Linked DNA regions of Homo sapiens. The protein of the gene in region 1 purifies or fractionates together with the protein of each later gene. This does not show direct contact. Each region holds a gene or a part of one and is shown in the gene's direction. Other genes may lie near its edges.

Region 1 (3,429 bases):
TTGTCGTGAAAACTAAATGAAATGAGAGCATGTGTAGCCATAGTGCTGGCACTGGGTCACCTCTTTGTAAATATTAGCATTATCATTAGCAGAGGTGGCAGGGGAGGGTTATGAGTTCTTTTCAGATAGGCTAAGTTGGGGTATCTGTAAGATCACCCAATCACAGACATCTGTCAGGCACTTGGCAATGAGGATTTGGAGCCCAAGAGAGAGATCAGAGCTGGTGATAAAGATTTGGGTGTCACTCGCAGATAGATGATTACCTAGGAGTAGATAAATCATCCAGGAAGAGGGTGAAGAAATAGCTGAGGCAAGGTCCTTGAGGAACCCTTGGGGAGGAGGCCAAGTAGAAAACCCAGAGAAGCTTTTGGAAGAGGCTAAATGCAAAGACATTCTGCAGGGCCCACCCTGGAGGGCTGAGGCATGGGAGAAGGCAGGCCGCTGACTCTCAGCTTCAGCCTCACCCATTCCCCTGCCCCAGGTCTGTGACAGCCTTGGGCGGCGACACATGTCTACCTGTGCCCTCTGTGACTTCTGCTCCTTGAAGCTGGAGCAGTGCCACTCAGAGGCCAGCCTGCAGCGGCAACAATGCGACACCTCCCACAAGACTCCCTTTGTCAGCCCCTTGCTTGCCTCCCAGAGCCTGTCCATCGGCAACCAGGTATCTAGCCCGGCAGCCCGCAGTGGGAAAGGCAGAACTGGGTGGCAGGGGTGGGGTGGTGGTGGCCAGCAGGTGGGGAGGGGCACGCACCTCTCCCCTATCTCCTGTGCCACAGGTAGGGTCCCCAGAATCAGGCCGCTTTTACGGGCTGGATTTGTACGGTGGGCTCCACATGGACTTCTGGTGTGCCCGGCTTGCCACGAAAGGCTGTGAAGATGTCCGAGTCTCTGGGTGGCTCCAGACTGAGTTCCTTAGCTTCCAGGATGGGGATTTCCCTACCAAGGTTAGAACCTTTCCCCAAAGCTCAGCCCCATCCCTACCCTCACCCCATTCCTTCCAGTTACTTGCTGTGAGTAGCGCTAGTTTGTGGAAGGGGGCTTGGGCCCCTGGCTTCTGAGAACCCGTCCTCACTGAATCTCCTGCCTCTCTCCAAGAGACCATTGCACCCCACCCCACCCTCCACCAATAGAGCAGGCAAAGGAGTGGGGACCCAGAGGGCTGAGAAAACAGGAGCTAGAGGTTCTGGTCCCAACTCTGCCAGTTACTTGCTGGGTGGCTGTGATCAAGTCACTTCCTACTCAATCAAAGAGTCATCTCTACAAGAAATGACTGAGTGACACGTGCACCACTGCCCAACCCTGTGATCCAGGACTTCCCGGCCTTAGCCTGACGGGCTTCCCAGCTCTTCCAGTGCCTTCCCTGCTCAATTAAATCAACTTGGCTCCCCGTTCCCCTGAGTTACCTCCCCTGTGGAATGACCTGTTGTTTTAGATCCAGGCCTCTCCTCCTGTAGTTAGCAGGGAAAACCAAGGCAAGGAAAAGTAAGGGCAGCTGAAGCAAGGGCTGGTAGCTGAGCTGGGGGGCCCATGTCCAGCTCTTGTCCCTGGGCCCCTTGATCTGGAATGGGGAGGCGAGGTCCAAAGAAGGCAGTGACTCACTTCCCCCTTCCCTTATCTACCATTACCAGAAAAATCCTTGACATCAGGCCACTAATCGGGTCCCTGTCCCATGTTCTGGACCCTTATCTACCCCGTCCTGCCCCATTCCCGCTTCCTCAGCCACTTTCCCAGTAAGCTGACTGGCAGCCTCATACTCTCCCAGGCTCCTGGCTTCTTCCCAGCAACCTGTGACAGAGCGGCAGGGGAAAGGCAGAGGGAAAGCGGAGTGAGGGGCCGCCTGTGTGTGGAAGACCTGGGTCTTGGGCCACACCCTGCCCCTGGCTCTGCCCTAGCAGATATTCCCTGGAGTGCTGCTGCCTGGTGAGGCTTCTGATACCCTCTTCCCTCTCTCTGGCTCTTGGCTTAGATTTGTGACACAGACTATATCCAGTACCCAAACTACTGTTCCTTCAAAAGCCAGCAGTGTCTGATGAGAAACCGCAATCGGAAGGTGAGCACCCCTGCCCTGCCCCTCCTTCTCCCAGCACCCCCTCAATCAGTCACCATAACTGGTCTATTCTGAGGCCCCCTCTGCGAGCAGCTAGGATGTGGAAAGCGGTTCCTGCTTGCATCTCTGGGGCAGAGGCCTCCACCAGCAGGCTCTCCTCCATTCCTCCAGTCCTGGCGGAAGCAAGGCCCTCCTAGGCAGCTGGTGGATAACAGAGGAGGGTCCTAAGAGCACCACAGGAAGAACCCTTGGCTGGGCCAGGACTTGGACGTTGAGGTCTCGGTCTGTCTCCTCTTCTTACTCACCAAGTAGCCTGGGATGAGGCACTTCCCCCTCTGAGCCTCAGCCGCCTGTTTCTGCATGAAAGGGGTTGGGCTGCTTGATGTCTCCTCTGGCTTTAAAAACCCACATTTGAGTTTCCTCCTTCCCTCTACTGCCCTGTGCCCATGCCTGCCCACCTCTCGTTCTTTTGGGCTTCTGACACCTCCCCTCCTCCCCACTCCTGGCACCTGGCTCTGTGATACAGACCGTCTGCACTGAATCTCTGTGTAGGTGTCCCGCATGAGATGTCTGCAGAATGAGACTTACAGTGCGCTGAGCCCTGGCAAAAGTGAGGACGTTGTGCTTCGATGGAGCCAGGAGTTCAGCACCTTGACTCTAGGCCAGTTCGGATGAGCTGGCGTCTATTCTGCCCACACCCCAGCCCAACCTGCCCACGTTCTCTATTGTTTTGAGACCCCATTGCTTTCAGGCTGCCCCTTCTGGGTCTGTTACTCGGCCCCTACTCACATTTCCTTGGGTTGGAGCAACAGTCCCAGAGAGGGCCACGGTGGGAGCTGCGCCCTCCTTAAAAGATGACTTTACATAAAATGTTGATCTTCAGCCTGTGTGGCCTGTTCTGGTTATGATCCCCATCCTCAGCACTGCTACCCTGCCCCGTGGCAGTCAGTCCCCAACCCCTGGTTTTATGGATCCACCTGCCGGTGAGAGAATCTCATGGGAATGGTGCTCAGGGAAGCAGCCATCTGCCAGGAGAAGCAGAAGACCTGAGAACCCAGGGAGGTGAACTGAGGAAGGCCAAGAAGGCTGGGGCCCTAGGGATGATGTGGGCATGTGGGCACCTGTCTTCATTTCTGAAGCCCTAAGCCCCGTGATGTCAGATGCGAGTGTAGTATTGTTCCTCTGTAGGATAAAGGCCAAAGCCTGATGAGATCTTTTCCAAAGGGACCAATCCTGGGGTATAGGGAGTGTGCACCTTGCACTTAATCAGGAAGGGAAAAACCAGGAACTATAGCCTAGATCAGGAAACCTTGGGGTTGTTTTTGTTGTTGTTGTTTTGTGTTTGAGACAGGGTCTCGCTCTGTCACCCAGGCTGGAGTGCA
Region 2 (3,500 bases), on another chromosome or scaffold:
TCGTCATACTTCCACCTCCAAGGCAGCACGCACTGGAGCAAACCACGCTCTTGCACAATAACATGGTTTATTCAGTTCTCTGCTGTCTGGGAGTATTAGTGTTCTGTCCACAACAGTAGGACATGCTGATAAACCACAGTCACGGACTGAAACCTTTCATAATAGGTGTTTATGCATGAGGTTAACTTTTCTTCCTATTGAGTAACTTAACAAGGTTGGGCTGCTTTTTACCGTGATGTAAGCAGTAAATTATTTCAGAGCCATGTTTGATCTCTAGCTTTGTTTCCTAGTTCCGCAGCTCTCTGTACTTGCTCATGGAGACCCTCAATGCGACGACGCCCCACTACGTTCGATGCATCAAGCCAAATGATGAGAAGTTACCCTTTGAGTAAGTGTTCTTATGCAACACACAGCGAAGACGTGGGAAGGCAGTTTCTGCCATAAAGTTGGAGAATTTGCTTCCAATTGTCTTGAGATTACCCTGTTTCTGGGTTTTTTTTTAATGATTCAGAACAATGCTGCCCTTTACATAAAATGTTAGCTCAGCCCCTCTGGTTAAACCCCCTCATCTCCAGGGCTAAGCAAAAGGGCTAGATTTGAAAGAATCTTCTACAACTAAAGTTTTTGCAACTTGAACCTTTTACTTGATTAAAAGAAGAATGAGTATGTGTGTTTGTAGAAGGTCATAGAAGGTCAGAACATTTGTCCTCAGACATGATGGCATGAGGCATTATTCTTGTTCTCTGGGACCCATGGAGGAGACCCAAAGCTTGTGAATATAAGGTGTAACAAGTCCCTTGTAGCTTGCTAGAGCTGAAAGAGGTGCCTAAAGGGGGATGAGCTGTCTATGGAGGTGGTGAGTGTGTGTATGGGTCACCAGATGGGTGAGACCTAAGCTGCAGAGCTACCTGTTGGGTGTTCTGTAGAGGAAATTCAAGCATCAGTGGGTGCTTGGGCCAGGCGAGCTAGCATATTTCTTTCCACCTGGTTGTCGTTTGAAGCTCACCTCAAAGGCCAGTTCCCCCATGGCCTTCTCAATGCCACCTCCATCAGAGTCAGCTGCTCCTTTCTCTATATCCCACTGCATCTTTATGGACTGTTTTGCAGAGGTGCTATTTTTCTTGGTCATGCAATAGAAACTTATTAAGTATCTGCTGGGTACCTGGCATAGGGTCACAGTCTAGCCAGGTCTGCTGTGCCTGTTTATGGGCATGTTGAGCAATTACGATGCCTCAACACATAATATCATTGTCTTTTTAAAGATTTGACTCCAAAAGAATTGTTCAGCAGCTGCGAGCCTGCGGCGTTTTAGAAACGATTCGCATTAGTGCACAGAGCTACCCTTCCAGGTATGTTGTCCGTCCTTGTCTTGGAGGGAAAAGTACCTGACATCAGAGCTATGCTGAGAACCAAGGACATGGCTGCCATGATTTTTGTCACATACTTTTGGCTTCTGTAAAGTGCCCCCAAGATTTTCCCACTGCCCTGTGGAAGTCCAGAAGAGGTTGAGAAATAGGCTTTGTAGGGGTCGGAGGTCAACACCACCTTCTCACCCCATCACTGCATCTCGGCTGCTGGTGGTGGCCCCACCGCCTCCCCCGTGTACTAGGGAAGACGCTGAGTGGGAGAAAGAGCACAATTGCTGGGGCAGACAGGAGTGCTCAGGGTGGTCTTGGTAGTGTCCCAGGCAGGCAGGGTATCAAAGATCAGTGCCTTTATCCTCAGGACAGATTGCACCACCCCCGCCCTATGACAACAGTGGCAGGTAAGGCAGCGGAGTCCCCAGACACAATGTGCTTCCTCTGACACTCCTGGCTTTGATCCCCTTTGATTTTCCAGGTGGACATACATCGAGTTCTACAGTCGCTACGGCATTCTCATGACCAAGCAAGAGCTTTCCTTCAGCGATAAAAAGGAGGTGTGCAAGGTGGTTTTACACAGACTCATCCAGGTCAGTTTCCCCACCTCCTGGGATCATGGTCTCCTTCCTGGAAGCACATCTCCCAAACATGCTGTTTCATCTTTGTCTTGAATGCTCAGGACTGTAATCATGAACACCTGAAAGGAAAGAAAATGTGCCCTGAGCATTTGTCTGCTGAAGAGACCATAGCAGAGTGCTCAGTGGGCCATGAGTCCCCGTTAGGGACCCACATCCGAACTCCGGCCTCCCCAGTGTCCTCGTATCCTGTTTAGCTCTCCCACGATCTAACCCAGTCCTCTGTGGACCAGGCTTATAGGATATGGTCAACTGGGGTTGTCACCAAGCCACATGGGCTCCAGGCATGGTGCCTTGTGTGGATTGACATCATTGCTGCAGCGATGAGTTGTGATGGGAAAGAGATGGGGAGTTATAAGGTCCAGCAAAGGGGATGGTGAAGAGAACCCAAAATGGAGACAGAAAACCAAACTTCCCCAGTTTCTTCTACTCCAATGTGGAGACCACGAGAGAGTGGCTGAAGTTCTCTGGCAGCCCAACTGAGAATCGCCGCAAATGACACTCACTCCCCTTCTCACCCACAAATGGATTCCTCAGCCTAAGTCCCATTTCTTCCTCCAGGGTAATTTTAAACAAACAACTCAAAGTATACATTTCTAGATCATGATGTGAGTTTTCTGCCTTAAATGTCAAAATCACAATATTTCTGGCACCTTTGAATCCCTAAAGCTCTTTTCCAAATACTGTATTATAGAAAATCTGACAGATTTTAATTCTAACTATATCATTTTTCTCTTCCAGGATTCTAATCAGTACCAGTTTGGTAAAACCAAAATTTTCTTCAGAGCAGGACAAGTGGCTTATTTAGAGAAACTTCGATTGGATAAACTGAGGCAGAGTTGTGTTATGGTACAAAAGCACATGCGTGGCTGGCTCCAGAGGAAAAAATTCCTCCGAGAGAGACGAGCCGCCCTGATAATCCAGCAGTACTTCCGGGGTCAGCAAACTGTGAGGTATGTTGGAATCAAGGAACACATGTGGAACTGTGGGGCTTTCTGTGCTGATCATCTCCGGCGGGGAGGACTCATCAAGGACAAGGGACCTTTCTCCTGTGACCCAGGGTGCAGACGTGCATGGGTCCCCTTTGTGGTCGTGAGCATTAGGGCAAGAAAGGTCCGTCTCTCAGGGGCAGGTAGTGCTGGCTCTGCCTGGTGTCTGTGTGGTGAGCCGACACCCAGGGCCCTGCAGGGAGGAAGCGCTGGTGAGAGTGTTACTAAGGAGAGTCAGGGTTCCGGAAGCTCAGGGAGAGGCCCGGGGCCCCTTTCCTATGGGAACTGAAAATGCATAAGATCAGCAAGGCCCTAGTGAAGATCCAAAGGACAGATGTCAAGAATAGCCAGCGACCAGCCTGCCAGCAACAGGTGGGGTGCACCATGGCAGAGGGGGTCCCTGCAAGGCCTGGCAGCAAACCAATCACAGAACCCCTAAGCAGGAAGACCACAGCAGCCCCAGCCAAGCCAAGGGCTGAGGGGAGGGTGGTCCACCAGCTGCGCTGATCCTACCT

What was found. The genes of interacting proteins can lie anywhere in the genome.
Region 2: the proteins of ACRBP (region 1) and MYO5C purify together in Homo sapiens (affinity purification with mass spectrometry; one large-scale study listed by BioGRID and IntAct). This does not show direct contact.

Annotation. Positions count from the first base shown.
Region 1 is NC_000012.12:6,637,575-6,641,003, reverse strand, and holds the end of ACRBP (acrosin-binding protein precursor), read left to right. Parts: intron 1-481; coding exon 482-661; intron 662-776; coding exon 777-944; intron 945-1,966; coding exon 1,967-2,050; intron 2,051-2,599; coding exon 2,600-2,722; 3' UTR 2,723-2,929; downstream 2,930-3,429.
Region 2 is NC_000015.10:52,243,805-52,247,304, reverse strand, and holds part of MYO5C (unconventional myosin-Vc), read left to right. Parts: intron 1-290; coding exon 291-388; intron 389-1,262; coding exon 1,263-1,349; intron 1,350-1,839; coding exon 1,840-1,951; intron 1,952-2,737; coding exon 2,738-2,949; intron 2,950-3,500. UniProt on the Homo sapiens protein: May be involved in transferrin trafficking. Likely to power actin-based membrane trafficking in many physiologically crucial tissues.